Regions from separate parts of the Homo sapiens genome. Here region 1 is linked to region 2. The links come from fine-mapping of genetic effects on gene expression. Tissue or cell type: whole blood. Region 2 holds a variant in brackets; the other region holds the start of a gene. All regions are shown on one strand. Distances are from middle to middle.

Region 1 (5,146 bases), 420 kb before region 2:
GCAGCTGAGGAGTAAGGCATTATAGCTCTGGTTGAAGGACCCTGTGGGGCCAGTTAGCCATGAAGAGGCCATTCCTTCCCTTGGAGTGTAAGAGAGCCAAAAAACACAATCAGGAAGGTTTATTCTTTGATTGTTACAAGCTCCATCTTAATTACTACATGTGTATGCATTTTCTTTCTTTCTTTCTTTCTTTTTTTTTGAGACGGTCTCACTGTGTCATCCAGGCTGGAGTGCAGTGGCGCGATCTCGGCTTACTGCAACCTCCGCCTCCCGGGTTCAAGGGATTCTCCTGCCTCAACTTCCCAAGTAGCTGGAATTACAGGCGTGCACCACCATGCCCAGCTAATTTTTGTATTTTTAGTAGAGATAGAGTTTTGCCATGTTGGCCAGGCTGGTCTTGAACTCCTGACCTCAAGTGATCCACCCGCCTCAGCCTCCCAAAATGCTGGGATTACAGGCGTGAGCCACCGCGCCTGGCCTTATGCATGCATTTTCATGCTTCTGTAATTTTGCTACCCTCTATACCCATAAAGCCCTTCAGTCTTTTCCTATTTGGATAAATTCTGTTTATCTTTCAAAGGTCACCACCTCCATGAAGCCTTTTCTGATTTTCCTAGTCACAATGAATGCTTTCTTCCTCCAGCTTCTCATAGTGCTTTGAGTCTTTCTCATAGCATTTAGCCCACTCTGTCTTCTTGTCCACATGCATATCTTGCTCATTAATTCTAGTTACTGAGTGCCTATTTGTACCATATTGGGGATACAGGGTACTTGCAGAGAACCCACAGTCCAGTGGAAACCCAGAGTTGGGTAGAGTTTACAACCTTCATTGGACTAGGAGGCAGGAATCCCGTCTGCTCCTAGCTCAGGGCCGGGCACCAAAAGGTAGTCAGAAAAGTAACTTAAATGGAAACTCAGCAAAGTAACTTAAATGGAAACTCAGCATCAACGACTCTGAGAAAATTGAGTTAGATTTCAAAGGAAGGTTAAAAGTTGGCAAAGGTAGAGGGTGGGCAGGGGTCAGTTTTATTTTGTTGGAATATCCCAAGGGAATTTCCAGGTATGGTTGCAGTGACTCTGGCATGAAGACCTGGCGTGGAAGCCAGAGACATCAAAGATCCCCAGGGGACTGGGATGGTGGGAAGGGATCACTGTCCTCCTCCAGGACCAGGCTGGGAGTTTGATGCAGGATCATTCGGACATTGATCCCACTCCAGCCATACGTCTTTTTGCTTTGACTGACCATACCATAGAGGCAAGCAGGCTGTTTCAAGGGCCCAGAAATGAGTTACTGGCTAAGGGTCAAGCCGGTCAGAAGACAACTACACTGTCCAGTTGGCACATGATAAAAGCAATACTGATGCAATTATCACTCCCATTGGAGGGTGGCCTGGCATTATTTGTCACTTAAATAAAAAACGTCATTTGAATTTTTACTAGGAATTCTCATCCAAAATATGTCAATGATAGAATGAAACCGCATGACCGGCTTGCCAAAGTAAACTAAGTCCTAACGACACACGAGCATTAGAAATTGTGTGTATCTCAGAAAACTGCTCTACCCTGAGGCCTGACAGCAGGAGGGGGTCTTGCCGGGGTTCGGACGGGGAAAAGCCTTATTCATTGACGGTATTCTACAGTAGTCACCCCAATCATGTTACCACTCACCTCACTTTACACTGTCTGCTGCTTACCTGTGAATACGAGCTCAAGATAGTGAGAGATAAGCCTTGGTGTTTTCTGTGCCTCTCTCTTTTCTTTAATGGAATACAATTCTGAAAATAATATTAAACAGCACCCAGTCATTCTCAGAAAGCCGTCACACAAGGAAGAAACCACTATTTTCCCAAACTTTTTGTACAGGAAATTATAATCTGTAATCTCATCTTCTGCCACCTCCCTCAGAAGTTTCGATCTAGACATACATGTATTCAGTGAGTGGCAATTCAGCCTGGGGGGTGGAGTGTCAGGATTCAAATCTTTTTGCTGCGGGGTAACCCCAGGTCCCAGTGATTTCCATAGACAAAAGAGATGCTGGTAAATTTGGGATGTAATTGGAGGATTGGACCGGTCTCCCCGCTCCCTCGACCAATGGCTGTCACGCGGTCCCTTTAAGAAACCAGGAATCCGCCCGGAGTCGGAGCCCAAAACAGATCCTCTTCTCTGCTCCTCCCCTGTCCCCGCGCGGCGAATGGTTCGCGCCGGCCTATATTTACCCGAGATCTTCCTCCCGGACGGCAAGGATGTGAGGCAGGCGAGCCGGACGCCGCTCGCAGCACCGGAGAGGGCGCACTGCAAAGGCGGGCAGCAGACCGTGGAGAGCCCGGGAGCGGAGCTGGACACCGCCTCGGAGGGAAGAAATGAGGTAGCGGCGGTTCCCGGACCCGGCCATGCCCGTCCCCTGTTCTCGGAGCCCAGCGCCGTCTCGGCCAGGCCAGCCCGGACACTGAGCGGGCCGAGCGCGAGTCCCCGGCGTCCGGCGGAGCGAAGATGCAGTGAGTCCCCGCGGGACTGCTGCGCGGGGCCCGCCGCGGCCAGCCGGACCCAGCATCCGACCGCACTTTGGGCGAGCTGCTGACTTGAGACCAGCCCAAACGGGGGGCTTTCCATCTCCAGCACCCCTCGGAGGTGGGGAGCACCGGCCCCTAGGCACACTCGCTGTAGAGTTTCCGCGGGTTTTGGCCCCAGTCCTGAGGGTTGTGTGTGTTAGGGGACCCACCTCACGTTCGCCGAGGAGTTCCTGCATATTCTTGCACCATCCCGGGTGCTGTTGCTGGGGCTCTCTTTATTTGCACGCGCGCTTCTAGCTTTTTTCCTGACATTTTCCACTCTACGCTCGTTCTTTCTCCCTTGCATTTTGTTGCTTGCCTGAGACTCTTTGCTCTCGCCCTTGCCCAGGCTGGGGTAATTCTGTGTGCGCGCGTGTCTCCCCCGCACCAACCTTTTTTGCACACTCGAAGCTGAATATTTTCTTTTTTAGAGAATTTACCCGCACCTCCTGCGGGGTTCCTAAGCACTCTCTCTGCTCCCCTCCCCCCAACTCCCTACCACAGGGCCGCTCCCAGTAGTTTTATTCTTCGATCTTGCCCGGGCCGAGCCTGGCAGGGGCCGGTGGCTCAGCGGGCCTCGCACCCGGCGCTCCGCCGCCGCCGCCGCCCAGCTGCGCCGGGGCGCCCTCCGGAGATGCTGCCGTGGAAGAAGCACAAGTTCGAGCTGCTGGCCGAGGCGCCGCCGCGGCAGGCGTCCAAGCCCAAGGGCTACGCTGTGAGCCTGCACTACTCGGCGCTCAGCTCGCTGGCGCGGGCGTGCCCCGAAGGCGCGCTTAGCCGGGTGGGCAGCATGTTCCGCTCCAAGCGCAAGAAGCTGCACATCACTAGCGAGGACCCAACTTACACCGTGCTCTACCTGGGCAATGCCACCACCATCCAGGCGCGCGGCGACGGCTGCACCGACCTTGCTGTGGGCAAGATCTGGAGCAAGAGCGAGGCGGGCCGTCAGGGCACCAAGATGAAGCTGACGGTGAGTGCGCAGGGTATCCGCATGGTGCACGCCGAGGAGCGCGCGCTGCGCCGCCCGGGCCACCTCTACCTGCTGCACCGCGTCACCTACTGCGTGGCCGACGCGCGGCTGCCCAAGGTCTTCGCCTGGGTGTACCGGCACGAGCTGAAGCACAAGGCCGTGATGCTGCGCTGCCACGCCGTGCTGGTGTCCAAGCCCGAAAAGGCGCAGGCCATGGCCCTGCTGCTCTACCAGACGTCGGCCAACGCGCTGGCGGAATTTAAACGCCTCAAGCGGCGGGACGACGCGCGTCACCAGCAGCAGGAGCTGGTGGGCGCACACACCATCCCGCTAGTGCCGCTGCGCAAGCTGCTCCTACACGGACCCTGCTGCTATAAACCGCCGGTGGAGCGCAGCCGCAGCGCGCCCAAGCTTGGCTCCATCACCGAGGACCTGCTCGGCGAACAGCTGGAGCAGGAGCTGCAGGAGGAAGAGGAAGAGGAGCAACCCGAGGGCTGCCCGGAGGAGGAGGAGAACCGTGCGGCAGAGGGAGATCCAGCAGAGGAGGAGGCCGAGGCGCAGCGTGCGCTAGTGGTCGCCATGCACTTTGAGTGCGGGGACTTGTTGGATACTCTGGAGAATGGCCGTGGGGAGGCGCTAGGAGGCGGCGGGGGCTCCCTGGGCCCGGGGGCCGGGCCGCCGCCTCTGCTGCTGGGCAGCGCCTCCGACATGAAGGCTGAGCTGTCGCAACTTATTAGCGACCTGGGCGAGCTCAGCTTCGGCAACGACGTGCGCACCCTGCAGGCCGACTTGCGGGTGACGCGCCTGCTGTCAGGCGACAGCACGGGCAGCGAGAGCTCCATCGAGGGCGGGGGCCCTGACGCCACCTCCGCCACCGCCGGGGACTCGTCCCGCCAGGCCGACGGCGCCAGTGCAGACGAGCCCCACTCGGGCTGAGCTCCTCCGCGCGTCGCCGGCGCTCCACCGTGGCTACCCATCCGTGGTCCCGACAACCTCCCTGTCCCTTGCCCGCCCCCAGGAAGGGGGAAATGGGGCATTTGGGGCCCAGACCTACACTTGGAGCCCAGGTCCAGCGTTCCCCCGACCGCTTTCCCCTACCTCCCGGCCCCCGCTCCCGCCCCAGCACTTTTGGCTCTGTTGCGCGTGGGGATGCGGGGAGATTTGAGAGGGGAAAACCCCGCCAGGAGGGAGAGAGAGGCACCCCTCTGGGATGCGGGTGAGGGAAGGTTGGCTGAAGTTCCTAGTCTCAGGCCGTAGGTGCCTGGCCAGTTTCCTGTTTGTGGGGCAGCTGGGGCCTGAGGAGGAGGGGTTCACTTCCTCCTCCCACCCCCTGGGAGCGGCCCTGCGCTGTCACTGACATCTCATTAAAAAAAAAAAAAAATTTGCTCTCAAGGTGTTTGAGGCTTTAATGCAACCCTTTAGCCCTTGGTTCTTTTTGGTGCAAGAATTCTGGCTGTTTACCTCAGACTCAGACCCCTGAAATGTTGCCAAATTCTTCAAATAACTGTTTGGGGGGTGGGGGGAGATGAAAGAGAGTCGCGTTTTGTTTACAGTTAAAGACATCCAATATCTTAAAAAGGAGTTTTCCTTTAGAAACACACACACCCTTCCTCTTGCTCAAAAGATC
Region 2 (5,146 bases):
TGGCAGGGCTGCTGCTTCTCCCTTTCCATCTCATTGCTTCAAGCACAGACCATTCCACAATCACAATGTATTTACTTTCCAAAGCTGTGGATACCAAAGGAAAAACTGTGGTAGCAGAGTACGGTGTAATTAACGTGGAATGTACCAGGGGAACCGAGGACATGGCAGACAGACACCGCGTTCTCAAACAACCGCTTGCTGTTGAAGAGGGTCTATTTTCTCCTCTCCCTCTCCCTTCCCAAGAGATTAAAATAATAAACTCTAAGAAATAAATAAACGTGCTCAGCTTCACACATACGAGGTTGACCCTGGCGCAGGTGCGTGGACTCACGTGTGGGGTAGCAGCTGGACAGCCATGATCTGTGTCCATCACCACCCAGGCATCATGACCACAGAGAGACATATTTAGCACACACATTACAGTGCCTCCCAAACCAGCACCACCATCTGGGGCCTGTGCTGTCAGCCTGGACGCAGTCAAGTCAGCTGAAAGTAAAATCCATTCTCCATAATAAAGGTGTTCACAAGCCCCTTTCCCTGTGCAAGTTAGCAAAGACAGAACCATCTGACGAAGAATTAAATGCAGTAACTGGGCTGGGCGCGGTGGCTCATGCCTATAATTCCAGCACTTTGGGAGGCCGAGGCGGGTGGATTACGAGGTCAGAAGATCAAGACCATCCTGGTTAACACGTTGAAACCCCGTCTCTACTAAAAATACAAAAAAATTAGCCGGGCGTGGTGGTGGGCACCTGCAGTCCCAGCTACTGGGGAGGCTGAGGCTGCAGAATGGCGTGAACCTGGGAGGCGGAGCTTGCAGTGAGCTGAGATCGCGCCACTGCACTCCAGCCTGGGCGACACAGCGAGACTCTGTCTCAAAAAAAAAAAAAAAAAAAAATGCAGTAACTATATTTGAATCTTGTTCAGTGTAAAAGTTCTTAAGAAAAAGTTGTTTCTAAAGTGTAGCTTCAGTCAATAATTGGGATCTGTTTCTCACTGGGCACAAAATGGAGGGAGAAGAGAAAAATTCTCCCTGTCTTACTTAAAAAAGAAGACAGACTAAATAAAGTACAATAAATATCTATAGAATAAAGTAGTGGAAATTTGGAACTTCCAAATTTGCAAATCTGGAACTTCCAGTCCCTGCATAAAGCTGTCTGAGATCCTGCACCTGAAACCAATCTCCCCGCCACCACCGTTCCCCCTGCTTCATGCGACAGGCAAGGAGTGGCCCAGCCATGTCTGTCCCTCCTTTATTCATCCTCTGTGGATGTCTGACGGCCAGATGGACAGGGCTGGTTTCCTACTGGTCTCCGAATCTCCTGCCTCCACACCTAGCATGGGGTCCTATCTGGGAAAGTGTGGCCTATATGGCATGGAAGCCAGGTACAGCAGGAGTTTTACCCACCAGAGCACCGGACAGTGTGCTTTGGCCAGGACAAGGAGGGACACATTTAGCACACACATCACAGCGCCTCCCCCAGAAGGCAGGCATCTGCAGAGTCTTCTGCCCTGGCATCAGGCTAATGTCATGCTCCTCAGTGCCTATAGAATTAACGTCACCTTAGCCCAACACATAAGGCTCCCGGTGATGTGGCCTCTACCCCTGCCAGCCTCCTCCTCCTCTCTCCCTGGCACTCTCCCCGGCACTCTCCCCTGTACTCCACCCAGACCCAAGTTCCTGGGCCTACACACGCTACCCTCACTGAGGCTGTGGTGCCCTTCTCCCTCCTCGTCCACCAGAAAACTTCTTGTCACGAAAACCCAGCTCACAGGCCATGTCCTTTGTTCAGCTCCCTCCTCGCCCCCAAGCCTTGGACTATGTCTATGGTTGTGGGGTTTATACTGATCCTACATCCCTTTCTGTCCTATTAAACTGTGAGTTCTTTGGGGACAGAGACTGTGTCTTTTTATATCGGATATCCCTGCTGCCTAACCCTGTGCCTGGCACAAAGCAGGGACTCAGTCCAAATTTACTGAAGCGAACTAGTCTAGACAGGTATACTTTCACTGTCCAACTGCAAGGATATAACTAGCCTTTTCCAAGACAGCTATAGGTTCCACAGAGCGGCCCACAGCCAAGGCCTCTGCCAGTCTCTGTGAAGGGCTTCTGGCGCAATCCCAGCAGCTCCCCAGCCTCACTGCTGTAATCCACAAAGCACCTCCCAGCACGTGACAGTGAGGCTATGACAAGTACATAATATGTCACCTTCAGAGCCGCCAGGCCTCTTGCCAGTGCTATGCCGTCCTTACGGCGCTTGGGCAGGTACCCCCAGCTTGAATGTTCGACTTAATTGATTGGGAGCAATTAAGGAGAACATGTACTAGTTAATTAAACACTGTACCCCCACTGCCACCTTCATCAAAATCTCTTAAATCACATTAGGAAAAAACAGAATCTCTCTGGCTGGTTAG[T/C]ATCTTTACTCTCAGGGCATCATGATGATGAAATGGGTAAACACATCCTCTTTTGCAAAACCATTTCCTTCCCATTTATTACTTTTTCTAGAAATGCACACAACTGCTATCACTTTCATAAATATTTTAAAACATTAGTAAGTCCCAGGGACATTCCTTTTGTATACTACATATTTCAGTGAGATTTGGATAAAATATGGCAGTTATACATGTAGCTCTAATTAACATATTTCCTGAATGAAAATGATAACATCTGGCCCCTTTTAAAGATGAAATATATGAAATTGGGATATAGCAAAAAATACATCTGAGCCGGGTGCTGTGGTGTGTTCCTGTTATCCTAGCTACCTGGGAGGCTGAGGCAAAAGGACTGCTGGAGCCCAGGGCTTTATGTCCAGCCTGGGAAATGTAGCGAGACCCTATCTCTATTGAAAAAAAAAGGGGAGAGGGGAAGGGAGGGGAGGGGAGGAGAGGGGAGGGAAGAAAGAAAAAGAAAGTAAGGAAACAGAAAAAAAGGAAGAAACAAAGAGGAACGGAGGAAAGGAGGAAAGGAGAAATGTAAGGAGGAAGGGAAGGGAAAGGGAGGGGAGGGGAGGGGACGGGGGAGGGAGGGATGCGGGGAGGGAGGACAGAAAGAAAGTAAAGAAACAGAAAAAAAGGAAGAGAGAAAGAGGAAGGGAGGAGAGGAGGAATGGAAGGAGGAAGGGAAGGGAAAGGGAGGGGAGGGGAGGGGGAAAAAGAGAATTGTCTGGTATATCTGAGTCTATGTTTTCCAACAGAATAGAATGAATGTCTTCTGAATTCTATGTAAGATATACAACATGATATTTTGAAATACACAGGTAGTGAAATGGTTACAATAGTCAAGCAAATTAACATATCCATCAATTCACATTGTTACTCATCTTTGTGTGTGTGGCAAGAGCACCTAAAACAAACTCTTTTCGCAAAATTCATGAATACGATATTATGGATGATAGCCCTCATGTCACACATGAACCCTCTAGACCCGTTCATCCCACACGTCTGCTACGCTGTATCCCCTGACTGGTATCTCCCCATTTCCTCCCTCACCCTCGCCGTGGCCACGGTAACCATCATTTTCTTCTCTACCGCTGTGTATTCAGCTTTTCCTCTTTTTAAAAAGATTCTACATATAAGTGAGATCATGCGACATATTTTTTCTCTGTGTCTGGCTTATTTCACTTAGCAATAATGTCCTCCAAGTTTCATCCACGCTGTGGCAAATGGTATGACTCCTTCTTTTTAAAGGCCGAGTAATATTCCGTTTTGTGTGTGTGTGTGTGTGTCTTGTATGTTACAATTTCTTTCTCTATTCATCTATCAACAGACATTTAGGTTCTTTCCGTATCTTGGCTACTGTGAATAACGTTGCCGTGAGCACGGGAGAGCAGTTATCTTTACGAGGTAGTGATTTCATTTCCTTTGGGTCAATGCCCAGAAGAAGGACTGCTGAGTCATATAGTAGTTCTAGTTTTATTTCTTTAGGAATTTCCATATTGTTTTCCATCATGGCTGTACCAACCTACATTCCTACCAACGGTGCAGCGTGCTGGGGCTCCCTCTTCTCCACACCCTCGCCAACAGTGGCTATCTCTTGTGTTTTTGACAATGGCTATTCTATCAGGTGTGAAGTGAGAATGACTGTTTTCTGATTTTGCCAGATTTTTATATGTCTAAGGAATCAACCCCGTACTGCCAGCCTGCACTGAACGGGGAGAAGTGGCGGCTCACGCTAGTAACAGTCAGTGCTGTGGGGGGCAGATAAAAGGGAGCCTAGGAACGCTGGACGGAAATGCTGATTTGCTCCAGATAACAGACTGGAATTCCAGGCCATGAGGCTGGGCCTAGTTTAGTTAATGCTGGGCCACTGGTGGTTCTGTGACAGAAAAACAGGAGTGCAGGAATGCACCCCCACACCAGCGACCTGCGTCCATCACCCCACGCCAGCGACCTGCGTCCATCACCCCACGCCAGCGGCCTGCGTCCATCACCCCACGCCAGCGGCCTGCGTCCATCACCCCACGCCAGCGGCCTGCGTCCATCACCCCACACCAGCGGCCTGCGTCCATCTCTTCTGCATTTGTTAGAGGCTGCATGGGCCTAAATCACACACACTCAGAACCTAGAAAGAATCAGTGTAGGTAAAACAAGAGAGAAATTAATTTTAAATAGGAACATGTTCTTTGTCTTTTGAAGCCTTTTAAAGGCCCTTACATTCACTGTCGCTGTGCCTTTACCTAGACTCAGATAAATGACAGAAGAGGTGCTGTTCTGTGAGACCTTTAGAATCCATCAAGGGGAAGTCACTGGGCAAGAGGAATGAAATTCAGGCCCTGAGAAACTAGGGAAAAAAAAATTAGAGAAACAATGCAATCTTGTCAGGTGACCAATTCCAAGTGTGTCCTTTGACCTCATGGAATAAAAGACAGTCCCTGGCATAACTAGCTGAAAATACTAGCTGGGGTCATATGCTTCTGATTACTGAGAAAGGCCAGCACAGGCTGAGAGTCCCTATGCTCCTGCCTAACCCTGTGGCCTCTCCAACGAGGGGAGAAAGGTTTGACGCACTAGAAGTTCATCACTTTAAGTCTGTTGTTTGGAATTCTGAATACATTTTCCTATAACAACTATTTCCAACTGGTGTTTGGGCGCCTTTTTAGACATTACATACAGATGGACCCACAGTTTAGAATGGGAGCAATGGGGAAAG

Evidence for each region. PIP is the estimated chance that this variant, and not a neighbour inherited with it, causes the effect.
Region 1: FAM43A starts here. The variant in region 2 is fine-mapped to the expression of FAM43A in whole blood (TOPMed, PIP above 0.99).

Annotation. Positions count from the first base shown.
Region 1 is chr3:194,683,644-194,688,789 of GRCh38, forward strand. FAM43A (family with sequence similarity 43 member A) reads left to right here and starts at 2,240. Exons shown (of 1, transcript NM_153690.5): 1 at 2,240-5,146. The coding sequence starts at 3,184. The coding sequence ends at 4,455. It overlaps LOC124909474, which reads right to left and starts at 3,266. Exons shown (of 3, transcript XM_047449428.1): 1 at 2,217-3,266; 2 at 1,695-1,775. The coding sequence starts at 2,610. RefSeq lists enhancers at 1,970-2,329, 3,081-3,586, 3,587-4,090 and silencers at 3,070-3,259, 4,090-4,389.
Region 2 is chr3:195,098,957-195,104,102 of GRCh38, forward strand. The region is part of intron 3 of XXYLT1 (xyloside xylosyltransferase 1); the gene reads right to left. It overlaps LOC124909476 (a long non-coding RNA gene), which reads right to left. Exons shown (of 2, transcript XR_007096226.1): 1 at 4,674-5,146; 2 at 3,896-4,558. Among named protein-coding and RNA genes, the nearest start is that of XXYLT1-AS1, 6.9 kb to the left of the region's middle. RefSeq lists an enhancer at 3,682-4,881. The variant T/C (reference allele first, on the strand shown) is at 2,413.